Regions from separate parts of the Homo sapiens genome. Here all the other regions are linked to region 2. The links come from fine-mapping of genetic effects on gene expression. A gene starts in region 2. Each other region holds a variant in brackets. All regions are shown on one strand. Distances are from middle to middle. Region 1 has its middle 16 kb from the start of ZNF792. Region 2 holds the start of GRAMD1A (GRAM domain containing 1A). Region 3 overlaps GRAMD1A (GRAM domain containing 1A). Region 4 overlaps ZNF30 (zinc finger protein 30).

Evidence for each region.
Region 1: its variant is fine-mapped to the expression of GRAMD1A in whole blood (TOPMed, PIP above 0.99).
Region 3: its variant is fine-mapped to the expression of GRAMD1A in whole blood (INTERVAL, PIP above 0.99).
Region 4: its variant is fine-mapped to the expression of GRAMD1A in whole blood (TOPMed, PIP above 0.99).

Annotation. Positions count from the first base shown.
Region 1 is chr19:34,976,157-34,984,327 of GRCh38, forward strand. No RefSeq gene overlaps it. Among named protein-coding and RNA genes, the nearest start is that of ZNF792, 16 kb to the left of the region's middle. The variant C/T (reference allele first, on the strand shown) is at 3,408.
Region 2 is chr19:34,997,468-35,002,467 of GRCh38, forward strand. It overlaps GRAMD1A (GRAM domain containing 1A), which reads left to right and starts at 2,856. Exons shown (of 20, transcript NM_020895.5): 1 at 2,856-3,019. The coding sequence starts at 3,012. RefSeq lists an enhancer at 241-916 and silencers at 2,691-3,070, 3,341-3,470.
Region 3 is chr19:35,022,269-35,030,439 of GRCh38, forward strand. GRAMD1A (GRAM domain containing 1A) reads left to right here. Exons shown (of 20, transcript NM_020895.5): 17 at 632-643; 18 at 968-1,075; 19 at 1,159-1,279; 20 at 3,781-4,201. The coding sequence ends at 3,873. Among named protein-coding and RNA genes, the nearest start is that of SCN1B, 4.1 kb to the right of the region's middle. The variant A/ACCACGGAATCC (reference allele first, on the strand shown) is at 4,016.
Region 4 is chr19:34,944,711-34,952,881 of GRCh38, forward strand. It overlaps ZNF30 (zinc finger protein 30), which reads left to right. Exons shown (of 5, transcript NM_194325.3): 5 at 1-458. The coding sequence ends at 128. Among named protein-coding and RNA genes, the nearest start is that of ZNF792, 15 kb to the right of the region's middle. The variant G/A (reference allele first, on the strand shown) is at 4,133.

The DNA.
Region 1 (8,171 bases), 20 kb before region 2:
AACTTGAACATTACGAAATGTTAAGTTTTGGCCGGGTGCAGTGGCTCACGCCTGTAATCCCAGCACTTTGGGAGGCCAAGGTGGGTGGATCTCCTGGTCAGGAGTTCGCGACAAGCCTGGCCAACATGGTGAAACCCCGTCTCTACTGAAAATACAAAAATTAGCCAGGCATGGTGGCAGGTGCCTGTAATCCCAGCTACTCAGGAGGCTGAGGCAGGAGAATCGCTTGAACCCAGGAGGCAGAGGTTGCAGTGAGCCAAGATGGTGCCACTGCACTCCAGCCTAGATGCCAAGAGCAAAACTGCCTCAAACAAACAAACAAACAAACAAAAGAAATGTTAAGTTTTCCATTTGAGATATTTTTTCAGGTTCTGTATACTGATGAAACCACTGATGCCATTTGGTCTGAAGGAACCCACAGGAGCTGCTGACTCACTAAAGAATGCAGTTTTCACACCCTGATTTCATCCCCCTAACCCCAAGCAATCAACCACCCCAATTCTCCAGCTCCTCGTCCTTCCATGATCCCCTTAAAATCGCCAGCCCAGAACTCCTTGGGGAGATGGATTTGAGGGTTTCCTCTCATGTCCTCACTTGGCGCCCTGTGATCATGAAACTCTTTCTCTGCTGCCAACCCTGCTGTCTCAGTGGAATGGTCTGTCACTGCACAGTGGATGTGTGAGCCTGTTGGTCCTATAACACTGCTTCATCAGAATGCTCTGAGGCTCCATACCCCAGGCCCACCCTGCACTGGCCAGCTCCCCCTGCCCTTCTCCCCATTGCTGTACTCCCACCCTCCTCCACTTTCTTCCCTGAGAGCTGGCTCCCAGGGTCTGCAGGGCTCATCCAGGTTGGTTCTGTGGCCAAGGGGCATGGTTCCAGCTCAGCCCCTTCTGCCCCTTGGACTTGAGAACCAGGGTCTGCAGTCCACAGTGGAGTAGGCCTTGTGTATGGGCTCTGGGTCCATACTTAGGACCTTATGAGGGGCAGGTGATGGTAGAGGAAGAGGCTACCCCTAGTGGGCATTTGATTGGCAATGGGAAGGCTTAGAAAGGGGTCACAGGCTGGAGAGCTTCATGGACTGCATCCCACCATGAAGGAAATGGAAACTTGGCTTTTCCATTCTCAGGTTACAAGGGAAGAAACTTTCATGATGGTGTTGATAAAGAATATTCTGACTGAATAAGTTGGGGCCAATTTGGGGTTGGGTCTCAGGGAAATGAAGAGGCTGTAAGAGCCCAAATCTTTCCCTTCACGTGGCCCCCAGAGTCTTTAAACTCTCCTACTTCTTCAAGGCCCAAGCCCCTTCCTTCAACTCATCTTGGATCACACGTGAACAAAGTAACAAACATTTATTAAGAATTTGTATTCACAGCCTGGCACAGTGGCTCACGCCTGTAATCCCAGCACTTCGGGGAGGCCGAGGCTGGTGGATCACCTGAGGTCAGGAGTTCGAGATCAGCCTGGCCAACATGGCGAAACCCCGTCTGTACTAAAAATCCAAAAAATTAGCCGGGCATCGTGGCGGGCACCTGTAATCCCAGCAACTTGGAAGGCTGAGGCAGAGAATCGCTTGAACCCGGGGGGCAGATGTTGCAGTGAGCCGAGATCATGCCATTGCACTCCGACCTGGGCAACAAGAGCAAAACTCTGTCTCAAAAAAAAAAAAAAAAAAAAAAAAGGATTTGTATTCACAAAACTTCGTGCCAGGCTGGATGCAGTGGCTCATACCTGTAATGCCAGCATTTTGGGAGGCCAAGGCGGGAGGATCGCTTGAGCCCAGGAGGTGGAGGCTGCAGTGAGTTATGATCAAACCACTGCACTCCACTCTGGGTGACAGAGCAAGATCTTATCTCAAAAAAACAAAAAATCACCCAATTCTGTGCCACAGGGAAACTTTTGGGGACTATGAATGCACACATTTGCTAGAAGCCATTGAAGTATACACTCAAAATGAGTACATTGTGTGTGTAAATTATACCTCAATAAGTTGATTTAAAAAAACTGCATCAGAAGATTGGCAAGAATATTGGTAATTGTCAAAGCTGGATGATGGACACGTGGCAGCTCATTATGCTTTTCTCTCTACTTTTGAGAATGTTTAAATTTTTCATAATAAAAAAATAAATTTATTCTGTGCTAATACATTTAGTTCTGGGAAGCAAAGTGTCATTGGGTATGTAAGAGTCACACTTTAATTCTTCCATGTCACAAGCAATTCACTGAGCACCAGCCTTGTGCCAAACATTGGGCTGGTACACTGGAAATCTTATGACAAGGTCACAGCCTGCCCTTGTCCCGATGGTTTGCACAGTGGAGGGAAAGAGAAGGGCGCTTAACAAATAATTGCCCAGGTAAATGGTGACTTTCATAATCCATATAAAGAAGCCAGATGCCATCAGATATGATGGAAGAACCCACCTTGCTCTAGGCAATCAGAAAGGCTTTCTAGAGGAGGTGGTGGTTAGACTGGGTGCTGAAGGATGAATAGGAGAGTGAGAGAAAAATACAGGAGCATTTGTTGTTATTGTTGTTGTTGTTTTGAGACAGGGTCTCATTCTGCTTCCCAGACTGGAGTGCAGTGGCACTCACTATATAGTGGCACTCATAGCTCACCATAAACTCGACCTATTGAGCTCAAGCGATCATCCCGCCTCAGCTTCCCCATTAGCTGAGACCACAGGTGCCCTCCACTATGTCCGGCTAATTTTTTTTCTTTTCTTTTTTGCTAGTGACGGGGTCTTGCTATGTTGCCCAGGCTGGTCTTGAACTCCTGGCCTCAAGTGAGCCTCCCGTCTCAGCCTCCCAAAGTGCTGGGATTACAGGCGTGAGCCACAATGCCAAGCCATACAAAGGAATGTCTTAATTCAGCAAGCTTTTATGGCATCAATGCTATGTGATTAATTCCAAGTACTTTTCCCTGGGGAACTCTTATTCTACCAGGAGATTCCAAATGGTGGTAAACACTTTATTATGATTCAAAGCGTTAATTACTATAATGGAAAAAACCTATCTCATTGGGAACCAAGGAGAGAAAGAATTCTTGGAGAGAATTATTGCTGAAGTATTTACAATGGAAGTTGCTGCTAAACTGGGTGTTAAAACACAGTTGATGTTCGCTAGGTGCACCAAAGGTCTGCATGAAGCAGAAGTGCTCCAGCTGTTCAAAACCTCAAATGAGCACTTTGTTCCAGGAAGAAAGACAAGGGCCTGAAACTGGACTTTGGAAAGCGGGTGGATTTGTAGAGGAAGGAAGAGCATTGCAGGAAGGTGGATCGCACAGGTTTTAAGGGGTACCTTCTGGTGGTGTGTGAGAGACAGAGTGAGTGGAGCTGAGGGAGCACCCTGAAGAGCAGGGGGATATTTGGCTGGGTGTTTAGCTAGGGTAGGGTCAACACGGAACCCTT[C/T]GATGCCAAGATGAGGAGGTTGGAAAGGACCCTGACAATGGGACCTCACTCCCAGTTGCATTCCCCTATCACTGCCTCAACTTTAGGTGTGTGGAAGAGCAGACCCTGGTGGCCTTTCAGTACCAAGAGTCATCTTTGGTCAAAATTGCTGAGGATCAGGTCTGACTAGGAGCACCTAGTCTGGCTGGAGGCAGAGGTGGCCAGGAGCCGAGCACCAGGGGAGAGAGAGCTCTCAGCATGATGAGGAGAGCACCATCCAGTTTACATATTTCTTTCTGGAGGAATCTTCAAGTTCTCCCAACTTGATTCAGGACAGGTGACCCCCAAACTGGGGCTTAGCATGTGAGGGTTCTTGGCTTTGCTCAAGAAAGAATTCAAGGGTGAGCAGTATGGGCCAGTGGTAGGGTAGAAGAAAAGAGGCTCATTGAAGAAGCCGTGTTACAGCTCCATGACTGCTCCTGCAGAGCAGGACTACCCGGTCCCGTAGGCAGACAGCAGCAGCTCAGAGCAGTTCTGCAGTCAGATTTATGCTCACATTTAATTGCACGTAGATTAAGGGGCAGTTTATGCAGACATTTCTAGGGAAGGGGTAGTAGCTTTGGGGTCATTATATCATTGCCATGGAAAGGGGTGGTGACTCTCCGGTGTTGCCATGGCAATGGTAAACTGACATGGCGCACTGGTGGGTGTGTCTTATGGAAAACTGCTTCCCTCCCGTCCCTGTTTTAGCTAGTTCTCAGTTTGGTCAGGTGTCTGAGCCTCACCTCTGGAGTTGAGCCCACCTCCTACCTCACGGGTGTACTGCAGCCAGTGAGTGTCATTGAGTCCCTGCATATAACAAACAGACTCCGAGATCTGCCTTCACCCAGTGGCAGTTCATGACCTTTTGGACATGGTGCATAGATAGTGATAGAATAGAAAGGCAGTAACGTCATCCACTATGCATTGTCTTCGTTCTAATCACAAAATAAGTGTTTGAAAAATTAAGCATTATATTTTCAGGTGCCTTTCAAATTCTAGACCCAGCGTACATACATACATACATACATACATATATATATTATGCATAACACATCTATGTGCCGTATTTACTTTTTTTTTTTTTGAGATGAAGTCTCACTCTGTTGCCCAGGCTGGAGTGCAGTGGCGCCATCTCGGCTCATTGCAAGCTCCGCCTCCCAGGTTCAAGTGATTCTCCTGCCTCAGCCACCCGAGTAGCTAGGCATGTGCCACCCTGCCCAGCTAATTTTTGTATTTTTAGTAGAGATGGGGTTTCCCCATGTTGGCCAGGCTGGTCTTGATCTCCTGACCAGCCTCCCAAAGTGCTAGGATTACAGCATGAGCCACTGCGCCCAGCCTTTATTTACTTTATAACTGTACTTACCTTATGTAATGAGTATATATGAAGTAGTGCTAAAATATACATATTTAACATTTAAATATCATGCAGCATTAAAAGACATGGCTGGGTCCAGTGGCTCCCATCTGTAATTCCAGCACTTTGGGAGACCGGCAGGCAGACGGAATGAACCCAGGGTTTTGAGACCAGCCTGGGCAAGATGGTGAGACTCCATGCCTACAAACAATACAAAAATTAGCCAGGCATGGTGGCATGTGCCTGTAGTCCCAGCTACTCAAGAGGCTGGGGTGGGAGGATGGCTTGGGCATGGAAGACCAAGGCTGCAGTGAGCTGGGATGGCATCATTGCACTCCAGCCTGGGTGACAGAGCAAGACCCTGTCACAAAAAATAAATAAATAAACAAACAAACAATAAAAGACATATAAATAAATAACTGTCCTCTACCTTGCATCCACATCCCATAATCAATCATTTTCGTCTTTTGGCTCTTCTATTATTGCTTTATGTTGCTGAATAATTTGCATATTCTAATATCTCTTTTGCATTTTAATCAGTATTATTGAAGGATAGTTTATATACAATAAAATGTGTCTCTTTTTTGTTACTTATCGTTTTGAAACACCTGTATTCCACATGTGTTTATTAGGTGTTTACGATGCTCTAAAAGTGCATTACAAATAAGTCATCAAACCACTAGCTTAGCAAATTCACACAGGCATGTCAGCAGTGGGGAAAATAAAACAATTAATTATAATGTCCCATTAATAATATCCTGTAAATATCAAACACAACGCATTTTTTTTCTTTGTCCTCATTGCAAACTATACTGCCTAGGCCATCCGTAAACAAAAATTTTTGTGTGTATTATAAGTATTTCCATCAGTTTGGGATTCTTAAACTCAAAATTCTTGGCTCTACCAGTTGCAAACTTTTAAAATTTTAATTCTAATCAGTCATATAAATGCACAATAGCAAAAGTCAAAGAATTCAACAAGATTTCTAAACCCAGCAGCTCTCTTCTCTACTCCATGCCGTCCCACCCCATCCCCCTCTCCAGAATTAGCCACTCTCTCTTTTAGTGCATAGTTCTATTTTCATCTCCTTTTTTTTTTTTTTTTGAGTTGGAATTTCACTCTGTTGCCCAGGCTGTAGTGCAGCAGTGCCATCTCCGCTCACTGCAACCTCTGCCGCCCGGGTTCAAGCAATTCTCCAGCCTCAGCCTCTCAAGTAACTGGGATTACAGGCATGCACCGCCACACCAGGCTAATTTTTGTATTTTTAGTAGAGACAGGGTTTCACCGTGTTGGCCAGGCTGGTCTCGAACTCCTGACCTCAAGTGATCCGCCCATCTCAGCCTCCCAAAGTGCTGGAATTGCAGGCATGAGCCACTGTGCCCGGCTCCACGTTTATAAATAGCAGGTTTATATACAGTCTTGAATTTGAATGTTATATATTATCAACTTACTTTTTACTAGAAGATGATGAATTCGCTCTTTTCACTCCTCTCCCACACACATATTTCCTTCCCCCCCCTTCAATCCTCCCAGAATTGTCATGTCATGATTTTTATTAAGTTCACTGATTATGTTATGGAGATCAGGAAAATGTTAGAGATGAGCTATGTCGTGCGCTGTCCTTACATTTCTTTCTCATGCAAACTTTTTGCTTTTCTTTACAACTGTAGTTGAGATTTGTCCTTTTCTCTGCTTTGAATAATTTAAACTCCAATCTCTGTCCTTCTGCTCCAATCTATACTTTCTTCAAGCCAGCTGCATGATTCTCCTGCTGGGACTTCACTTCACCATCTAGTCATGTTGGTCCTCCATTTTCTCTTTCCTGGTTTACTCCCTTGTTTAGGGTGAAAATATCTTCCAGGAGCTTCCTGAGAAAGACTGTTTGGGAGGAAACTTTTTGAGACTTTGTTTGTCTGAAAATGTCTAACCCTGTTTCCACTTGAGTGATAATTTGATAGAAGTCCAGGTTAAACAGCAGTTTTTCCCCAGAGTGTCCAATGTCCTCCCACCTGTGATCCTTTGACTGTGATCTGTTTGGCTTTTTTTTTTTCTCTCTCTGGAAACCTCTAGAACTGATGTTCTGAAATATTATTACCATATTTTAACAATTGTGGAGCACTCTGCAGGCTCTTCAAATTTCTTTCAGTTATGGGGACATTTCTTTAATACTTTCTTCACTACTGGAGTTTCTGTTTTCTCTTTTTTGGAATTTCTGAATTTATCCTCTAATTTTCTTATATTGTCTCTTATTATCCACTTTTGTCTTTTATTCTGCTTTCCAGAAGTTTTCCTTTTAGTTTGTCATTGTTTTTTAGAGACAAATTCTCAGCGGCTGGGCACGGTGGCTCATGCCTGTAATCCCAGCACTTTGGGAGGCCGAGGCGGGCGGATCACAAGGTCAGGAGATCGAGACCATCCTGGCTAACGCGGTGAAACCCCTTCTCTACTAAAAATACAAAAAATTAGCCAGGCGTGGTGGTGGGCACCTGTGGTCCCAGCTACTCGGAAGGCTGAGGCAGGAGAATGGCGTGAACCCGGGAGGCGGAGCTTGCAGTGAGCCGAGATTGAGCCACTGCACTCCAGCCTGGGCGTCACAGAGAGACTCCATCTCAAAAAAAAAAAAAAAAAAAGAGACAAATTCTCGCTCTGTCACTCAGGCTGGAGTGCAGTGGCACTATCATAGCCCACTGCAGCCTCAAACTCCGGGGCTCAAGCAATCCTCCTGCCTCAGCCTCCCAAGTAGCTAGGACTGCAGGCTTGTACCACTTGTACCACCATGCCCTGTTAATTTTTTAATAGAGATAGGGTTTCACTATGTTGCCCAGGCTGATCTCAAACTCCTGGTCTTAAGAGATCCTCCCACTTTGGTCCCCAGTGTGGTGGTGTTGGGTGACGGGACTTTTAAGAGGTGATTTGGTCATTAAGAGAGACTGATGCCATTCTCTCGAGACTGGGTTAATTCTGGAGGCAGTGAGTTCTCACTCTTTTGGGACTGGATTGGTTATTGCAAGGGCAGGCTGTTATAAAGTGAGGTTCCCCTTAAGTTTTGCCCCTTTGACACACACCTGCTTCTCTTCTGCTTTTCCATCATGTTATGATGCAGCACTAGCCCCTCCCCCGAAGCCAACCAGATGCCACCCACTCGGTATTGGACTTTTCAGCCTCCAGAACCATGAGCTAAATAAATTTCTGTTCACTATAAATTACCCAGTCTGTAATTTATAGTGGTATATTCTGTTATACCAACAAAAAATGGACTAAAACAATCACTGTCCGTTTAGATTTACCCACACATTTATCATTTTCATTGCTTGTTATTCCATCTTACAGCTCATATTTTCCCTCTGATATTGCTTTTCTTTCTTCTGACCTAATTTTTTAAGAATTTC
Region 2 (5,000 bases):
CTCTGGTACAAGGAGACAGGAAATGGGAGGTTCAGGGCCATAGGGGGAAGAGGAAAGAACTCTACCGACCCTGAATAGAACAAGCAGCCACTGTGGTTTCTTCCAACAAGGGACACTCCATAAGCGTTAAAGTTTAGGAAGCAGAGCTTTGTGCATGGATGTGGAGAAATCGCAGAAACAATGATAATGGGGGACAGCAAGTTGCAAATGAAACAGAGGGAGCCTAATCGTGTATCTTTTTAAAAAGATACTGGATAATAGGTGATAGTGTTGGTGGATGCCTCCTGATGTAGAAAAAGGACAGAAAAGTACACAGGGTCCAGGCGTGCTGGCTCATGCCTGTAATCCCAGCACTTTGGGAGGCCGAGGCGGGCAGATTAACCTGAGATCAGGAGTTCAAGACCATCCTGACCAACACAGTGAAACCCCATCTCTACTAAAAATACAAAAATTAGCCAGGCATGGTGGCGCATGCCTGTAATCCCAGCTATTCAGGAAGTTGGGGCAAGAGAATCGCTTGAACCGAGGAGGTGGAGGCTGCAGTGAGCCAAGATCGAGCCACTGCACCACTCCAGCCTGAGCGACAGAGCAAGACCTTGTCTCAAAAAAAAAAAAAAAAAAAAGCGCAGGAAGGAAACACACCAACTGCATGGCAGGCAGAAGGCTCCTTGGGGGGCACGGGAAGGGAAAGGAGGGATGGGGAGCCAGGCCTTTGGTTGTAAGTGTAATCATTTATTTCTTTTAAAAAAAGGACCTGAAGCAAAATGGCAAAATGTCCACATCTATTCTATATAGGTACAGGGGACATAGAGGACTGTTATATTTTCTTCCTTTTTTTTTTTTTTTTTTTTTTTGAGATGGAGTCTTGCTCTGTTGTCCAGGCTGGAGCGCAGTGGTGCGATCCTGGCTCACTGCAACTTCCACCTCCCGGGTTCAAGCAATTCTCCTGCCTCAGCTTCCTGGGTAGCTGGGATTACAGGTGCAAGCCACTACACCTGGCTAATTTTTTTGTATTTTTGATAGAGATGGGGTTTCACTCTGTTGGCCAGGCTGGTCTCGAACTCCTGATAGGTGATCCACCCTCCTTGGCCTCCCAAAGTGCTGGGATTACAGGCGTGACCCAACGCGCCTGACCTGAAATAAATATTATTTAATTAAAAAACTAAAAGCATTACACTAGAAGAAACAGACCAAAGAGAAATCTAAAGAGATCAGTTGGACAGAGGAAGGTGGTGGGAGGAGGGCCTCTCTTCCATTGGCCGGTGGGAGGCAGCAAATGTCAGATGGTGGATGGGGGTTTTAGAGGTGGGGGTTAGCATGAGAGGTAGGGCACGGCGATAGGGGGGGTGCTGTCCATGCAGAGGGAATAACCAGTGCAAAGGTCTTGGGGTAGGAGGCAGGAAGGTGCCTGGTGAGTTAGAAGAACAGCGGGTAGGCTGGATGGGGGGTGTGAGCCAGGGGGAGATGAGGAGCTGAAGTCAGAGAGCTGACAGGGGCCTTGGGTGCCAAGGTGAGGACTTTGCTTTTACCTGGAGTGAGGTACAGCTGGGGCAGGGCTCTGAGCCAGGAGGGTAGTTAACTGACTCAGGTGGTCCCAGGCTCTCTCTGGCTGCAGGTGAGAACAGACAGTAGGGGCAGGGATGGGAGCAGGGAGATCAGGCAGGAGAGGATGGAGGCTGGGCCAGGGCGTGGGCAGCGGAGGAAGAAGAGTTTAGAATGGAGCGATTGATTTTATACGTGGAGCCCACAGTTTGTGACGGATTGGATGTGGTGTGAAGGAAAAGAGAGGGTCAGAAAAGACTCTGAAGTTCTGGGCCTGCCATTCATCAAAATGGAGAAGTCAGGTGGGCTTCTTTTGCAGGAGGAGGGGAAGGGTTGATGGAGAGGGTTGGGAAGGGAGTTTTTTCAAAAGAGGCGGGGACAGCGTACCCTGGAGAGCGCTGGGGAGCCACAGCCCCGGAGCTGTGAGGTGGGACTCGCATTTCTGTGTGGTTGGGCCAGGAGTCCAGGACACCACCTGACTCTGACCTCTTGCAGACGGGGCGGGGGAGGGGGGACGCAGGTTATGGCGTCAGAGCAGGATCGAATCCAACTCTGCCGCCTACCTACCAGGTGACCCCAACAAGTCACTTCCCATCTTAGAGGCCGGGCTTCTCCTTCCGTAAAAGGACTGATTTTGCCCGTTCCTGCGCTGTCCCCGGGAAAAGCCCTTACCACCGAGTTAGTGGGACTCCCAGCACTGGGGTGATGAGCGCAAGGTCTCAGCACAGATAAGAGCCAGGGAGGCTGGATTCTGACTTGGTACTTGGCCTGGCTGACCAAAACTGGGAAGTCCCTAGAAACGGAGGCACCGGACCTCCTGGGACCAGGAACCCGGGCTCAGAGACTGGGAGAGGGAAGGAGGAGGCGGCCAACCGGCCCCACCCCTTCCCGCCAGCTTCAGGCCCCCTCCCCCATACATACACCTCGGTTTCCCAGCATCTCCAGTCCTCCCCCACCTTCGCCCCGGCTCTCAGGTTCCTCCCTGGGAGGTCCAGGAGCTTCTGGCCAGGGGCATAGTAGTTGCTAGGGACCCTTTTCTAGGTACTAGGGGAGGGGGCTCCCCAACCTGCGGGCAGGCAGCTGCCTCCACGATGTTTGGTTTTAATAAAGTCTCTTTGTTTCCTTCTCTGTCTCTCTGCCCCTCTGCTTTCCCTTCTCTGTCCAGTCCCTCTCTCCCCGGCTTCTCCCTCCTTCTAGGCCTCTGCGGCCCCTCCCCGCCTTCCCTCCCGGGCTGGGGGCGGCGCCGTGACGCGGCGGGGCGGGGGAAGGAAGGGGGTGTCGCTGACGCCGCGGCGGCCTCCGGCGGCTCCGGCCTTTTGTGCGGGCGGTTGGGTCGGGTGGGGGCGGCGGCCGCGGAAGGCCAGGCCGGTGCCCTGCGGGGACGCCCAGCGCAGCCCAGCCCCGCGCAGCCCAGCCCTGCCCTGCCCTGCCCTGCCCTGCGCCCGGGGCGCGCCCACCGCGCCGCATCCATGTTCGAGTAAGGACCGGGCGACTAGAGCTCAGGGACCGGGCGCGCGGGGGAGGCCACCGGAGGGAGGGGGCGCCGCGGGCTTGGGGAGGGGGCGGAGCGGCCGCTGCAGAGGTCGGGGGCCTCTGCACATGGCTCTGGCCGGGGCGATCGGGGTGGGGGCGGGGCAGGGGGCCCCCGGGCGAGGGGTGCAGCTGGGGAGTGGGGCGCGGACGCAGGGCAGGGCCCGGGGTCTGGGTCGCCACTGCCGGCCCGCGACGCACTGGGTTGCGGGGTTTGGCTGGGGGCCCGCGGGTTCATCTGGCGGGGAGGGCCCTCAGGCCTGGCAACCCCCTGCCTGGTAAGCCAGGGGTGAGCGCGAGGCCGAACTGGGGCTCCGGCCTGGGATGGAGACAGGATCGGGACCAGCCCAGGCCCACAGGCCGCGGAGCCCTGGGCGCGCCGGGAGTAGGCAGCCCCCTCCTGCCTGGGCCCCCTCCCACCGTCCTTGGCTGTTGCGGGTCTCGGGGCTGCCGGGGGTGGGGGCTTCCTGCGTCTCTCCAGGACCGCGTGCTTGAGGTCATGGAGGGCGGGGGGTCCTGTGTGCTCGGAATTGACTTCTTACTCCCCTTCCGGTCCAGGTGGGCGCATGTGCTTCCGACTGTGAATTGTCTTGCAAGTGTGTGTACGTGTGTCTGGGGCTGCTAGCCTGCAGCAGCTTTGGGCCTCTGATAGAGTTCCTGCGTGTAACTTAACCACTAATTCTGACCGCGGCTCTGTGTGTCACTGTAAGTTACCTGTGTGTGTCTGGGGCTCCAAATCTGTGGCTGTGAGCAGCTGGTTGTGTGCGTGTTGTGTCTCATTCCATCTGTAGCTCCCTGTGCAAATATAAATTACCCCTGTGTGTCTGAGTGTGACGTTGGAGTGTTTGTACATGTGTCTGGAGTTACCGTGTGTAGCAGCTCTGATCCTTCTTGGGCTGTGTGTGTTTTACCATTAATTCTATCTGTAGCTCCAAGCGTTGCTGTAAGTTACCAGTGTGCGTCCCATTGTGACTTAGTGGTGTGTGTACAAGTGTGCCTGGGGCTCTGGGTTCTACCATGACCCTCTGTGCCTGCATATGCCTGTAATTTAGCTCTGAAACGCTCTTCTTTTTTTTTTTTTCTTTTGAAATAGAGTCTGGCTCTGTCGCCCAGGCTAGAGTGCAGTGGCACGATCTCGGCCCACTGCAACCTCCTCCTGCTGGGTTCAAGCAATTCTCCTGCCTCAGCCTCCTGAGTAGCTGGGATTACAGGCGTGTGCCACCACGCCTGGCTAAGTTTTGTATTTTTAGTAGAGATGGGGTTTCACCATGTTGGCCAGGCTGATCTCGAACTCCTGACCTCAGGTGATCCACCCACCTCGGCCTCCCAAAGTGCTGGGATTACAGGCTTAAGCCATCGCGCCTGGCTTGAAACTCTCATTTAGCTCTGTGTGCCAATGTAAGTTACATTTGTGACATTGTTGTGTGTCTGGGGCTCTGTGAGTGTGGCTGTAACTTAATTTGATTCCATCTTTGTGTGAACATTCCCTTGTGTATTCCTTTGTGACAGTATTGAGTGGTGCCTAGGCCTCTCTGTGTACAGCTGAGACCCTCTGTGGTTTTGTGTGTGTGTGAACAGTGTGAGACCCCTTGTGGCTCTCTGTAGGCTTGGAACCCTCCCTTCTAAGACCCTGGGAGTACCCAGGGCACTTTGGAGGCAATAATGATAACTGACGTTGTCCACCTGTTACAGTTAGTATAGCATGTGCCACGCATTATTCCACTACCTGGCCACTGTGTCCTCGAGATCCACGCCCTGCTCGGCTGCATTATTCCCAAGTCCTGCTTGACTGTGAGCATCAGGGCTCTCCACCAGCTACAGCCACTGACACCTCCACCCCTTGCCACTTTACTTTTTCTTTTCCTTTTTCTCTTTCTTTTAGACGCAGTCTCGCTCTGTCGCCCAGGCTGGACTGCAGTGGCACGATC
Region 3 (8,171 bases), 26 kb after region 2:
ACCTCACCCAAGGATCAAGGGGGGCTTTCTGGAGGAGCAGGCACACAAAGATTCTGGAATTAGGTGCACAGGGAGAGGTGTGCCTAACAAGTGAGGTCATTTATGGACATTATGTTCTCTGTGCCCACTCCTAAGCTGGGCGATGCTGAGGACACCGCAGTGACCTTGAGGAAAAGATAGACCTCACACCAGACCAGAGTGATCCGGGCTGGGATGGGGGAGGTATGGGCAGAGGGGTTGGGGCTGGGAGTGGGGAAGCCCTGGGAGGCCAGCGGCGGCTTCCTCCCAGGCCAGAGGGGGCAGTCAGGATGGGCGTCCTGAGAGAGTGGAGACCGCGTAGGCTAAGGGCTTGGGCAGGGAGAACCCACACTCCTGCCCAGAAGCCTGCAGGAGTTGGCGGGCAGGACGCTGGGAGGAAACAGAAGCAGGATCCCGGGGTTGAGCAGACCCTGCGAGGTGAGGGTCAGGCCAGCTACATGCTCAGCCTCTGAGCCTCAGCTCTCAGCTCTCATCCAGTGAGGGGGCGTGGTGCTCTCAGCCAAGAGCTGCCCCGGGTGAGGAGGGCTGGGGGTGTCGGGGGCAGGCCAGGCGGCGCTCATCTCTCTGTCTCCCCTCACTGCTGCTGCTGCAGGATCTGTGTGAGGTAGGGTCCCGAGTCCTCCCCCTGCCCTCCCCTCCCTGCACCCCACCCCTGCTGCAGCCTCTTCTCCCCACCCCATGCCCCCCAGCTCCCCCAGGGAGGTGGCCTGGCATGGCAGTCAAGGGTATGGGCATCAGACAGACCTGGGTTTGAACACTGACTTCCCTGCTATGGACTGTGCAACCCTAGGCATGTCTCTCATCCTCTCTGAGCCTAATTCTCCTCCTCTGCAATGGGGGATAGAGGTGTCCCTACAAGATGTAGTTGTTTGGGGGTGTTCAGAGCATCTAGACCCCAGGAATCCTGACCTCTGACCCCTGTCCCCAGCCTTATCATCCTCATCGCCCTCAACGTCCTGCTCTTCTACCGCCTCTGGTCCCTGGAAAGGACAGCCCACACCTTTGAGTCCTGGCACAGCCTGGCCCTGGCCAAGGGGTGAGTGGGTAGCCTGGGGAAATGGGGGGGCTTGGGCACATCGGGGGAGGCCAAGGCCCTGCTCAGGCCTGGCATCCCCACAGCAAGTTCCCCCAGACGGCCACAGAGTGGGCCGAGATCCTGGCGCTGCAGAAGCAATTCCACAGCGTGGAGGTGCACAAGTGGAGGCAGATCCTGCGGGCCTCCGTGGAGCTCCTGGATGAGGTAGGAGGCGCCGCTCGGGCAGGGCTCGGGGCTGCGGGGCTGCAGGGTCCTGTGTTGAAACCCCACCGTGCGGCAGGCACTTCCCCTCTCCGGATCTCAGTGTCCTCCTCTGTAAAATGAGGAAGCCGCTCAGAGTCCCCACCCCACAGCATTGCAGGGGAAAGCATGGAAGCATGGATGGAAGACAGAACTGATTGGCTCACGTCCTGGAGAAAAGTCCAGAGGCGTCTCACATTAGGCACGGCCGGGTTTGGTCACTCAATGGCAGTAAGAGTCAGTCTCTCGTGCCCACTCTGCCCTGTGCCCATCTCCAGGGTTGGCTTCATTGGAGGCCACCCTTTTCCCCCCACAGGGGACCACGGAGCTTACTCTCATTGGCTGCTGGGGTCCCAGGCCTACCCCTGACACATCACAACAGCCAGGGCAGGCCACGTGTGGTCCCTCTACCCGCTACCCCACTCTGGGGTAACTAAGGGGTCACATGGTCTGAAGGGGAGAGACTCTCCAAAGGACCTGAGGTCTCATCTCCAAAACGGAGTGGACCCAGACACCCAGTGTAGTTCAGGGACAATGTCTACTCAGACAACCAGGTTCCAATTCCGGTGTGTGACCTCGTGCAAGTGATTTTGCCATGGTGGCCGTGGACTCCTCTGTGCACAGGATAATGACTGATGCTACCTCAAAGACTGTTGTGAGGATGAGACAAGTTGACATTGGGAGTGGTGCCAGGCCTGCAGGAAACACTGGATGTGGGCTGGCTGTCCTGAGTTTGAGCCTAGTGCCAGGGACAAAGCAGATGCCCAATAAATGTGATGTCATCACACGACAATTCCCTCAGGCCCCAGTAGACTCAGGCCAGCAGTTGCGGTGGGTCAGAGCAAGTGTCAGGCCAGCAGTTGCGGTGGGTCAGAGCAAGTGTCAGGCCAGCAGTTGTGGTGGGTCAGAGCAAGTGTTAGGCACTCGGGGAAGGTGTCGAGGGGGAAAGCGGATGGGAAACAGAGTCTGGCATTGCCTGCATTTCCAAGGCCATCAGAGCTGAAGTTGTGGGTGACGGTGAAAATCTTGTCTCATTGGACCCTTCCATATCAGAAGGCTCATCTTTAGGGGTCTCATTGCCCCCCGAAATCAAGCTTGGGAGAGGCTCACACTGGAAAGGGCGGGGCAGGATGGGGTGGGGAGGAGATGAAGGCTGAGGCCCCATCACTCATAGAGAGGGTAGGCAGGGCCCCCCATCCTGCGTTATTTTATTTTATTCTTTTGAGACAGGATCTCATTCTGTTGCCCAGGCTGGAGTGCAGTGGCACGATCATGGCTCATCGCTGCCTCGAACTCCTGACTCAAGTGATCCTCCTGCCTCAGCATCCTGAGTAGCTGGGACTATAGGCAGGCACCACCACACCTGGCCAATTTTAAAATTTTTTGTAGAGACCAGAGTCTCACCATGTTGCCCAGGCTGGTCTCAAACTCCTGGCCTCAGGCAATCCTCCCGCCTCGGCCTCCCAAAGTCCTGGGATTGCAGGTGTGATCCACCACGCCTGGCCCTGAGTTAAATTTTTATCATTTTCCTCTCTGTCAAACTGCTAAGGGTGCAGAGTTGACGTCACAGATTGGTGCTCACAGTAGATGTAGACTGAGCACTTACCTGCAGCTGGGCTGTTCTAGGTTTTAAGCATGACTGCTTTATCCCCACAGCCAGCCTTTGAGAAGATGCTCTTGTTATCCCAGTTTTTTTGAGACAGTCTCGATCTGTCACCCAGGCTGGCGTGCAGTGGTGCGACCTCTGCCTTCCAGGTTAAAGCGATTCTCGTGCCTCAGCTTCCCAGGTAGCTGGGATTACAGGCACCCGCCACCACGCCTGGCTAATTTTTGTATTTTTAGTAGAGACGGGCTTTCACCATGTTGGCCAGGCTGGTCTTGAACTCCTGACCTTAAGTGATCCACCGGTCTCAGCCTCCCAAAGTGCTGAGATTACACGCATGAGGCACTGTGCCCGGCCGTTATCCCGGTTTTATACATAGGTAGGCGATATGAGGCATCCAGAGGTTCGAGGAGCTCAGGAGCTTGCCCGAGGTCACAGAGTGGGTAATGGTGACAGCTAACATGTGCTGAGCACTTAGTGTACACCAGGTTCTCAGTGCTCTTCAGAACCCTGAAATAATCCTGTGGAGCAGATGTGTTATAGACCCGTATTTCAAATGAGGGGATTTTGGCTCAGGGTGGTTACGGGACTTGCCTGAGGTTAACTGAGGTAACAAGCAGCAGAGCCAGGATTTGAACCTAGGCCATCGGGGTCACAGGCACACACTAAGCCCCTTCCTCTGCTGCCTCTGAGAAGTTAAACTGGGTGCAGCATGGCTGTGCTCTTTTCACCAAGGGACCCTGGGGTGGGGCAGTATGGCCTCTAGACCGTCCTCAGTTTCTCAATGGCAAGGTGGGGGTGGGCGACATCACCCCCCAGCCTCCAGCGTTCACCCCCGACCCTGCTCACCTCCTCCCCGCAGATGAAGTTCTCGCTGGAGAAGCTGCACCAAGGCATCACAGTCTCAGACCCTCCCTTTGACACCCAGCCCCGGCCCGATGACAGCTTTTCCTGAGGACCCCGGCCACGCAGCTGTTCCCCCACATGGACAGATGGACACACAGAGCCTCGGCGGCCACTGCTGGCACGGTGTGAGCGCCAGGCATCTCCCACCCGCCCCTCCCGACGGCCCAACCAGGGGCTGTGCAGACGTGGGG[A/ACCACGGAATCC]CCACGGAACCGAGATGCACTTTAGACCAGGGAGCTGGCCCGGCCTCTGGCAGGCCCCCCACTAACTTATTTTGCCCGGCTGAGGTTGTGGGGGGCGCCTCCTGGGGTGCACGATTCCCTCAGCTCTGGGTTTAATGTATTATATTTATTTGGGGCCGACAGTGCCCCAATAAAGGGTCAGAAGTGGCTGTGGCTGTGCCTGTGGGGCCCTGGGAGTGGGTGGGAGCCTCCTGTTGCACTCAGATCCTGCCATGGTGGGGAGGGGACCTCTGTCTGTGTTCTGGGGCCATAGTCACTGAAACGATCTGGAATTCCCGCAGCATCTTACACAAGCTTTACATCATCTGAGGTCAACGCAGGAACTCCGGGGACAGACCGTGGTAGCTGGAGTTCAAATCCTGCTTCCTAGCAGTGGTGTAAATGCAGCAGGTCAGCCCCCTGGAGCTCCAGTGAGCTTTCCTGTGCAATGGGTAGAATGGCAGTAGCTGTCTCTCAGGGTTGTTAGAAGGCAGTGGTTCTCAAACTTGAGCTGCATTCGAATCTCCTGGAGAGCTTGATGAAAAACAGACTGTGGGCCCCTCCCTCCAAATTTCTGGTTCAGTAGGTCTGGGGCAGGGCTGGGATTCTGCCTTTATAACGAGTTCCCAGGAGTTGCTCATGGTGCCATCCCAGACGACACTTTGGTTTTTTGTTTGTTTGTTTTAAGTTAGGGTCTCTGTCGCCCAGGCTGGAGTGCAGTGGCACAAACATGGCTCACAGCAGCTTCGACCTCCTGTGCTCAAGCCATCCTCCCACCTCAGCCTTCTGAGTAGCTTGGACTACAGGTGTAAGCCACCACGCCCGGCTAATTTTTTATTTCTTTTTGGAGATGGGATCTCACTGTGTTGCCCAGGCCAGTCTTGAACTCCTGGCCTCAAGCGATCCTCCCGCCTCAGCTTCCCAAAGTGTTGAGATTTCAGGCGTGAGCCACCACGCCCAGCCCCAGACCACACTTTGAGAACCACTATTATAGGTTCAAGGAGTTCATAAATGTGGCTACTTATAACAGGGCCCGGCACAGATGGAATGGAGTAAGTATTCAATAAATGTTACACTTATTGCATAAAAATAGAGGGAAAAAAGTAACTCGCGTAGTGAGTACCAAGTACGTACGTACCCAGCTCTGTGCCAAGATCTGATGTTCATTTTATTCTCACAGTGATTCCATGAGGTGGAGACAAAGATGTACACGCCCGAGGCTACCCAGCAGGGAGGCAGACTCCAGGCCTGACCCCTGGGGTCTCCACATTTACATGCAAGGTCCTAACCCCCTCAGGACCCCACCACAGCCCATTCAGGCTGACGTTGGTTGGATTCCTGTTTTACAGATGAGGAAATGAGCTTGGAGGCAAAGTCCCTGGTCCAGAAAGAACCCAGGTCCACCTCACGCAAACCTTGTCCTGGTTCCAGAGGGAGTATGTGGGGTAGAGACACCTTTGGCATGTCACACCCCCGGCTATAAGAATCATCCTAACTGATGGCTTGGAGCAGGGGACTGGAGGAGGGTTTGGAGAGTGGATCAGGAGTGGCATAGGAGGCAGAGCCAGCCTCTCCTATCCTCTAGTTGTGTGATCATGGCAAGGTACCCATGCTGAGCCTCAGTCTTCTATATCTGTAATATGGGTGTAATAATAATACCACCTATAGGAAAAATTAAATGAGCTAATGTTAGTAAAGTGCTTAGAATGCTTAGAACAGCACCAAGCCCATACATAGTAGGTGCTCACTGAACATAGCTTATAGGGCCGTGAGGTGCCTCCTGTCCAGTGCTGAGGCCTGTCCTCACTGTGCCTTCACCTACCATCCCCCACCAGTGGAAGGGCCCGGAACAGCAAGAGGGTTATTCTCTGCAGGGGAATTTCACAGCTCAGAAGGTGCTGGCGTAAAAGTCTAGACCACAGAGGTGTCGGATGTCCCTGGCTCCCTGCCCCTCTGCCATGGTCCTGCCCCACACCCTGGCTCCTCTTGCCTGGCAGGGCTGGGCCAGGGGGATTCTGAGACCTTACCCCACCCGGAATTGGAGGCTAGGATCTGGGTAGTGACCCTTCAGCCGAGAGTCTCACTCCCACCCTGGTCCTGACAGCCCAGAACTCCCATCTCCATTCTCTCAATTTGGCAGAACCTACTGGTAGGACAGGCCACTCACCACTGCTGGGGCAGGATTCCACATCCATCCTAGGCCAGCTACATGACTCTGGGCAGGGGCACGGCCCTCTCCCAGCCTCAGTTTCTTCATCTGTAAAATGGGGATAATAGAACTTGCTGAAGGTTTGGGGCAGTAGAAGTGGGTTCTGCAAATCCCAAGGACTTAGTGAACATTGGCATTCATTTATTTGTTTGACAAATATTGATTGAGTACCTACAATGTGCCAGGAACAGTTCAAGGTGCAAGAGACACAAGACAATATCCTCACCTGGGAGATTTTTTTTTTTTTTTTTTTTTTTTTTTTTTACATGGAGTCTCACTCTGTCACCAGGCTGGAGTGCAGTGGTGTGATCTCGGCTCATTGCCACCTCTGCCTCCCGGGTTCAAGCGATTCTCCTGCCTCAGCCTCCTGAGTAGCTGGGACTACAGGCATGTGCCCCCACGCCCAGCTAATTTTTGTATTTTTAGTAGAGATGGGGTTTCACCATGTTGGCCAGGATGGTCTCGATCTCTTGACCTCGTGATCCGCCCACCTCGGCCTCCCAGAATGCTGGAATTACAAGCGTGAGCCACTGCGCCCGGCCTTTTTTTTTGAGACGGAGTTTCGCTCTTGTTGCCCAGGCTGGAGTGCAGTGATGCGATCTTGGCTCACTGCAACCTCTGCCTCCCGGGTTCAAGCGATTCTTCCTCAGCCTCCCAAGTAACTGGGATTACAGGTGCCCACCACCACTCCCAGCTAATTTTTTTTGTATTGTTAGTAGAGACGGGGTTTCACCATGCTCGTCAGGCTGGTCTCGAACTCCTGTCCTCAGGTGATCTGCCCCCCTTGGCCTCCCAAAGTGCTGGGATAGCGGGGGGCGGCTCACATCTGTAATCCCAGCATGGTCAACATGGTGAAACCCTGTCTCTACTAAAAAATAAAAAAATTAGCCAGGCATGATGGTGCACACCTGTACTCCCAGCTACTTGGGAGGTTGCGGCAGGATAATCGCTTGAACCCGGGAGGCGGAGGTTGCAGTGAGACGAGATCAGCCACTGCACTCCAGCCTGGGCAACAGAGCCAGACCCTATCTCAAAAAAAAAAAAAAAAAAAAAAAAAAAAAAAGAACATAATGTCAGGTAGTGAGGCTGCTGTGGAAAACACTCAACAAGAGGTAAAGAGTAAAGGAGGTCAGGTTAGGAGCGGGGAAGGCAGTTTACCCTGAAGGGACACAGAAGACCTGACGAAGGTGACATTGGAGCCATGGAGGCCCACGGAGAGGGGCGGGGCAGGGGGGGAGAGCCGGGGCAGAGGGGAGAGCTGGGGCCAAGGCCCTGAGGCAGGAACGGGTTCCCTGTGTTGGGAACAGCAGGAGGGCCTGAACAGCCAGAGTGGAGTGGGAGGAAAGAGGGGTAGAAGGTGACATCAGGGACATAAATGGGTGCAGGGGATCACGAAGGGGTCCTCCTCCTGAAACAGCACCTCCAGATTCCCGGGGCTGCTTCTCTCCAGGGTGCCCCGCCTGCTTGGGTGAGGTCCGGATTGTAGCTGTAGTCCTAGCCTGACGGCCCCCCACCCTCCTCTAATGCCTACTTGGGGTCCCTGCACATTGACCCCCAGGCCTGGATATCAGGGCTCAGGGGAGATAACTTGGAGGTTCGCCCTCTGGAACTCCTGAGGATGACCTCCATCATTTGAAGTCGGAAACCCGGCCCCCAAACTGCGCTCTAAGTCCTCCTGTGACTCTGGGGGTGACCTTTCCAGACTCCCTGGGAAGGTGGGGGGGGGGGGGTGGTCCTCAGAGCCCCAGCGGGGTCGGAGACACACAGACCACCCTCCCCGTTCCCAGAAGTCGCGGTCCCTGCGCCACCCGGAGAGGCCGGTGCAGCGGGCGCCTCCCGGGCCGCTGCGGCAAAGGCTGGGCGGCCGCGCCTTCCCCCCGCGGTGATTCATCCCGCCCCCTCCCTCTCCTCCCTCGTCCCTCCCTAGGC
Region 4 (8,171 bases), 51 kb before region 2:
TCCTTACTGAACATCAGCGGGTACACACTGGTGAGAAACCCTTTAAATGCAAAAAATGTGGGAAGACCTTTAGATACAGTTCAGCCCTTAAAGTGCATCTGAGAAAACATATGAGTGTTATACCCTAAGAGTCTGAGGAGTGTGGGAAGTGCTTCGTGTGTGGCTCAAACATTGTTGAACATCGGGGAATTTATGCTGGTAGGAAACTTTCAAATGTGAAGAATATTGGCAGGTCTATTCTCATCTTATAATTCATAATATAACTCAGAAAACATAAGAATATTCCTTTGTCATTTATAGGTTTGTAATACCAATATTTATACTGGTGGACCATTCAGAAAAAGTGGGAAACGTTATTACTTAATGGTTACAGCACTGACAGCATGAACTTTTATATGATGCATTTATTCTAATGTGATTGTATGAACAAGTGAATAAAAAACCTTGGACCTCCTAAACCACTGCTGAACTTCAAATAATTCATTATTTTTTAAAACCAGTTAACAATGTAATGAAAGCCTTTAGCCATGGCACTCACGTTAACTATCATCATTGTTATTCCACTGCCTTGCAGCCAGTTAGATATTAGGCACTACACTTATCACCTTACAGCATTGTTTTAAAATGGTGATAATAGAACCTACATTCTTATTAAAAAAAAAAAAAAAAAGCCAGGCTTGGTGGCTGAAGCCTGTAATCCCAGCACTTTGGGAGGCTGAGGCAGGCGGATCACGAGGTCAGGAGATCAAGACCATCCTGGCTAACACGGTGAAACCCCCATCTCCACTAAAAATACAAAAAAAAATAGCTGGGTGTGGTGGCGGGCACCTGTAGTCCCAGCTACTCAGGAGGCTGAGACAGGAGAAAGGCATAAACCTGGGAGGTGGAGCTTGCAGTGAGCCAAGATCATGCCACTGCACTTCAGCCTGGTGACAGAGCTAGACTCTGTCTCAAAGAAAAAGAGAAAAATTGAGACCTCAATTAAACTGGGCATCTGAGCTGGGCACAGTTCAAATGGGAGGTCGGGAGGCTGAGGTGGGAGGTTCACTTGAGCCCAGGAGCTCGAGATCAGCCTGGGCAATGTAAAGAGACTCTGTCTCCACAAAAAAATAACAAGTAAAATAGAATAAATTGGCTATCTGGCACCTATCAGGGACATGAGAGTTCCATTGGATAGCTTTACCGAGAACCCAGAATTGTGTATTCTGGGAAGGGAAATGTATGCCTTTGTTATTATCAGTAATATCTAACACTGAAGGAAATAAGGAGTTATTTGGCCTTGTATTGTGGCCATAGTATATCTAGAGACATGTGTGATTTACGTTTATATTTTAGGTATCTGTAAGGTAGGAGATTGCTAGAGTTTTTACTCTGAAGTGCACAACTCTTAGGCAATGGCCCAATAGTTTGCAATAAATGTGAAGATGAGGCCATTTGTTGACCAGGTCATCCAGTGCTAAGATGACTGCCTGAAGTTTGGCCAATTGTGTTGACTGCTGGGGACATCCTGTCTAAGATGCAAAGTAGCAAGATTCCACTAATTTAAAAAACAACACACAAAAAATCAATATTTATGATGGTTGGCAGTGTCGTTCATACAGTCTGCAAACTGCTATTGCTGTTTACTTAGTTAATCCCAAGGGTCTCCCCAGGTAGCCAACCAGTCTAGGAGAGGGGGTGACTTCTTCCAGTACCATGGCATGTGGCAAGAGACTGAGGACAAAGGAGACCACCTCTCCTGTAGATGGAATACGCCAGAGGGCCCAGATTTGGCTCTATCCTGTATTAAGGAGGCCTCGGTAGCCATGCCAAGTTTGTAGGTTGCTGTTTCTTGACTCAAAACAAATGGGCAGCTAAGTATTAGGTCTGTGAAAGTCTCTATTTCTAGAAGAGCCTAGTATGTAGCTAGTCAGTTTGTTTTAATGGAGGCATAGCATGATTTTGAGAAGGGCAGTTTCTTGTATCAGAAGCCCTTGGGAAACTTCTGGCCATCAGAGGTGGTCTAGAGACTCAAGGACACATGAGAAGAGGTTGCCAAAGCCTTGACAGTGAAGGGATCTCTTAGGGCGCTAACAAATGTGTCTGTCGATGTCAATGTGGACACATTTTAAAGACTGCTGGGGGGAATCACCCTGTCTGATGTTATGGGTTATTATATAGCTAAGGATACAAGACACTGTGGTACTGGGGAGGGATAAACAACATAGGTCTAAAGAACAGAATAGATAACCCAGAAACGTGCAAAGAAATATAACCAACTGATTTTTGAAAAACAAGTAAAAGCAAATAAATGAAGGCAGATAAGGCTTTTCAGCAAATAATGCTGGAGCAATTGAACGTCCATAGACAAAAGATGTGAACATCAACTTAATCCCATACTTTAAACACAAATTCACTCAAAATGGATCACAGACTAAAATATAAAATATAAAAGTACAAAATGTTCAGAAGAAAATACAGGAGAAAATTGTCAGAACTGAAGGCTAGGTTTACCCTAGGTAAACCCATTAAACAAAAGAAAAAATATCCAAAAATAAGAGTATCAGTTTCCACATTAAAAAACTAACGAAGAGAAATGCAAAATGAGCAGAAGAGAGTATATAATAAAGATTAAAATGGAAGTCAATGAAATAAACAGAATGAACTGTGAAGAAAATCAGTGAAACCAAAAGCCTTAAGAACAATACAACTGATAAACCTCTAGCCAAGGATTATCAAGTTACAAAGAAGCACATAAATTACCCAGATTGGGAATGAGAGACATGACAGATTCTACAGATATTGAAAGGAAAATCATGAACCCATTTATGCCAATAAATCTGGGAAATAAAATAAAATGAACAAACTCTCTTTGAAGACACAAACCACTAAAGTTCACTTAAGAAAAATAAAAATGTATATCCCTATATTTATTTTTAAAATCAGATTTGTAATTAGAAACCTTCCTACAAAGCAAACTGTGGCTTAAATGGCTTCAGTGGTATATTCTACCAAACATTTAGGGAAGAAAACCTAAGAATGCAGAAACTCTTCCAAAAAAGTGGAAGCATAAGGAATGCTTTCCAACTTAATTGGTGAAGCTATTATAGTGATACCAAAACCACACAAAGGCATTACAAGAAAACCGCAGATCAATATCCTTCATGAACATAGGTATAGAAACTTCAACAAAATTTTGGCAAATCAAACCCAACAATACAAAAAAAGGATAACACATCAAGAAAATGTAGATTTACCCTCAAAATATAAAAGTTCACTTGATATTTGAAAATCAATGCAATTTACCATTAAAAGACTTTAAGGCCAGGTGCCCCAGTGGCTCACGCCTGTAATCCCAGCACTTTGGGAGGCTGAGGCAAGCGGATCACTTGAGGTCGGGAGTTTGAGACCAGCCTGACTAACATGGAGAAACCCCATCTCTACTAAAAATACAAAATTAGCCAGGCGTGGTGGCGGATGCCTGTAATCCCAGCTACTCAGGAGGCTGAGGCAGGAGAATCACTTGAACCTGGGAGGCGGAGGTTGCGGTGAGCCAAGACCGTGCCGTTGCACTCCAGCCTGGGCAACAAGACTGAAACTCTGTCTCAAAAAAAAAAAAAAAAAAAAAAAAAAAAAAAAAAAAAAGACTTTAAAACAAGGTAAAACGTGATTGTAGCAGGTAAACTCTAAAAAGAACCCCAAATCTCTACTTCCTGGAATTCTTACCCTTGGGTACCCCTCACACATTTTACAAGGGTTGATCTGTAAAGCCCGTATAAAACAGAAAACATGAGAACATGTAACTTCCAATTTTAGGTTATTGAAGACACTGGTCTCCTTCTTGGGTAGACTCTCCTGCTCTTGGATCACTTTCTCTGTTTGAAAGAATCCCTGTGACGAGCATCCCTATGGAGAGATCCATGTGGCAAGGAACTAAAGCTTCCTGTCAACTGCCATGGAAAAGAGATTAGAATTGAATCTTCCAGCCTCCAGCAAGTTTCCTGAGACTGTAGCTCCAGAGACAGCTTAACTGCAATTTCATGGGGGATTCTCAACCTTGACCTACCTAAGCTGCTTCCAGATTAATGTAATATTCTAAAATATGTAAACAAATGTAGAGTGACAGAAAGCAGATCAGTGGTTTCCTAAAGAC[G/A]GGTAGGTGGATAAGGAGGAAGAGATTACAAAGAGCCCAAGAAAACCTTTAATTTCATGGCTATAAACATGTACCAAAACTTGTACCTGTGAAATATGTGTAGTTTAGACTTCAATAAAGCTGTTTTTCTAAAAAGAAAAAAAAATACTTAAAAAAATCCTCATTTCCTAATTATTTTACTATTATCTATGCTTTAGAGGTTATTTACGTTTATTGCATCTATTCAGTGGAAACAGAATACAATGGCGTGCTATTGCACATATCTTCCCAACTCCATATTCAGAGACATCATGTTGTAGCTTGAAATTGGCCAAGACAGAAGTATTTACACCTAGGGTATTGGTAAACACTACAAACCAGAACTTGATCTGTTGTTTTATTGACCAGGTAGACTTAAGAAAGCAGAGAATATGTTAATAATTCAGATTAAACTTAAAAGTGTTTCATGTCTCTAGTTTCCCATTGTGAACAGCACAAAATTTTGAGGAAATATTCTTCCAATATTCAAAATTACCCTACAAAACAAATAAGTCACTGGCATTATTAATAAATGACTGCAGTTCCAAAAAATTTCTTTACTATTTCAATATCAACTAATATTTACTTTTAAAATAGGCAAGAGATATCAGTAGACATTTTACCATAGAAGTTATATGGGTGGCAAATAAAAACATGATTTAAAATATGCTCAAAATCATGAAGCCTTAGAGAAATGCAAGTTAAAACTACAATAAGATACTATTACTCCATCCCTAGTAGCATTATAAACATTAAAAACACAGATCATAGCAATTGTTGGTGATTATGTGACGAAACTGGAACTCTTGCTCACAATCAGGGAGGCAGGGGATGTAAAATGGTATAATAACTTTAGAACACAATTTGGCAGTTTCTTAAAATGTAAAATATTCACCTACCCTGCAACAAAGGCATTGCACTTTTAGATAATAACACAAGAGAAGAGAAAGAATATTCCCACACAAAGACCTACACACTAATGATTACAGTAGCTCAATTTGTAACAGACAAAAACCAACATGCAGCTAATAGAAGAAAAGGTGGGAGTTCCAGAGGAAAGAGAGAAACAAGGAGGAAGAGGGACTATTTTTAAGAAATGGCCAAAACTACCCAAATTTGATGAAAGACTTTTTTTTTATTTTAACACACTATACAGATGTAAAAAGACATAAATATAAACACCCAAGAAGCTCAATGAGCTCCAAGAAGGATGAATTCAAAGAGACTCACGCTGAGGCACATTATAATCAAACTGTCAAAAGACAGAGACATAAAGAGAATACTGAAAGCAGCAAAAAAGAAGTGACTCATTACATTCAAGGGATACTCACTAAGATTATCAGATTTCTCATCAGAAACCTTAGAGGGCAGAAGACAGAAGGCAGAAGGCAGTGGGCTGACATGTTCAAAGTGCTAAAAGAAAAGAACGGACAACCAAGACTCCTAAATCTGGCAAAACTATCCACCAAAACTGAGGGAGAAATGAAGACATTCCCAATTGAGGGAATGCGTTACCAAGAGAACTGCTGTGCAAGAAATGCTAAAGGGAGTCCTTCCAGTTGAAATGAAAGGACACTGGACAGTAACTCAGTGCCATGAGAAGAAATAAGGATCTCTAGTAAAGGCAAATACCTGGGAAAATTTTAAAGTTCATATTATTGTAACTTTGGTTTGTACTCCACTTTTTGTTTTTTATGTGATTTAAGAGACGAATGTGTTAAAAAATTATTAATCTATGTTTTTGGACACACAATGTATAAAGAGGTAATTTTGTGACATTACTATCTACAAGTGTTGGGGATGGAGTTGTATAAGATCAGAGTTTTTCTGTGTTATTAACGGTAAGCTGGTAAAAGTTCAAATCAGAGTATTACAAATCTAGGATGTGAAATGTAATCTCCATGGTAACCACAAAGAAAATAGTTATGGAATATACACAAAATGAAACAAGAATGAAATTAAAATGTTTCACATTTGAAAAATCAAACACACAAAAAGAGAGTAATATAGGAAATAAGGGACAAAAAAGCTAAAATCACATAGAAAATAAATAGCAGAATGACAGAAGTAAGTCCCTCCTTATCAGTAATTACTTTAAATATAACTGGATTAAATCCTCAGAGCAAAACACAGAAACTGGCAAAATGAGTTAAAAAACAAACAACAACAACAAAAAAAACACCGATAATCCAACTATATGCTGTCTACAAAGTTTCACTTTAGATCCAAAGACAGAAATAGATTGAAAGTAAAAGAATGGAAAAAGATATTCCATGCAAATAGTAACCAAAAGAAAGCAGGGATGGACATACTGGTATCAAACAAAATAGACCTTAAATCAAAATGTGGTTCCATGAGACAAAGAGAGACGTTACATATTAAGAAAAGATTCAAGACAGCAAGGACATATAACAATTATAAGCATTTATATACCTAATAACAGACCATCAGAATATATGAAGGAAAAATACACAGAATTAACAGAAGAAATAGACAGTTCTACAACAATAGTTAGAGACTTCAATAACCCATTCTCAATAATAAATAAAACAATCAGAAGACCAATAAGGAAATAGAGCACTTGAACAATACAATAAGCCAATTAGATCTAACAGAAAATATATAGAATACACGATAACAATAGAATACACTTGCACATGGGATATTCTCCAAAATAGACCATGTCAGGCCATAAATTAAGGGTCAATAGATTTTAAAAGATATATATCATATAAAATATCTTCCCTGATCACAAGAGGTTAGGAAAACTTGAAAATTCACAAATTTGCAGAGAGCAAATGACACTCTTAAATAATCATTATATCAAAGAAATCACAAAGGAAATTATAAAATAGAGATGAAAGAAAAGGAAAACAATATACAAAAACTTGTAGGATACAACAAAAGCAGTGCCTAAGTAGGAAATTTATAGCTATAAAGATTATATTAAAACAGAAGAAAGATCTCAAATCAAAAATCTAACTTTACAACTTAAAAAAACTTAAGAAAAACTTTATAACTTAAGAAACTTAAGAACAACTGGCCAGGCGCGGTGGCTCATGCCTGTAATCCCAGCACTTTGGAAGGCCAAAGCAGGCAGATCATGAGGTCAGGAGTTCGAGACCAGCCTGACCAACTTGGTGAAACCCTGTCTCTACTAAAGATACAAAAATTAGCCAGGTGTGGTGGTGCACACCTGTAATCCCAGCTACTCAGGAGGCTGAGGCAGGAGAATTGCTTGAACCTGGGAGGCAGAGGTTGCAGTGAGCTAAGATCGTGCCACTGCACTCCAGCCTGGCAACAGAGCAAGGCTCTGTCTCAAAAAAAAAACAAAACAAAAAAAAAACAAAACAAAAAACAAAGAAAACACTAAGCCAAAAATTTAGCAGGAGGAAGGAAATAATAAAGATTAGAGCAGAGATAACTAGAGAATATAAAAGCAATAGAGAAAATCAACAAAATCAAAAGTTGGTTGTTAGGATTAACAAAATTGACGAAATTTTAGTTAGAAATGACAAAAAAAAGAAGATTCAAATTAATAAAATTAGAAATTAAAATGAAGACACTATGATAGAGTCTATATAAATAAAAAAAATTACAAGAGAGCTATGAACAATTGTATGCCAACAAATTGGTTGACCTAGAATGGATATATTCTGTGAGACACAAAATCTACCAAGACTGAATCATGAAAAACTAAAAGGCTGAGTACCATGGCTTATGCCAGTGATCCTAGCACTTTGGGAGACTGAGGCAGGAGAATGCGTAAGCCTAAGAGTTTGAGACTGGCCTGGGCAACATAGAGAGACCCTGTCTCTATAAAAATAAAAATCAGCTGGATATGATGGTGCGTGCCTGTAGTCCCAGCTACTCAGGAAGCTGAAATGGGAGGATTGCTGAGCCCAGCAGGTTGAGGCTGCAGTAAGCCATGATCATGCCACTGCACTCCAGCCTGGGTGACAAAGCGAGACTCTTTCCCTCTCTTTCTCACTCTCTCTCAATGATGAAGAAGAAGAGAAAG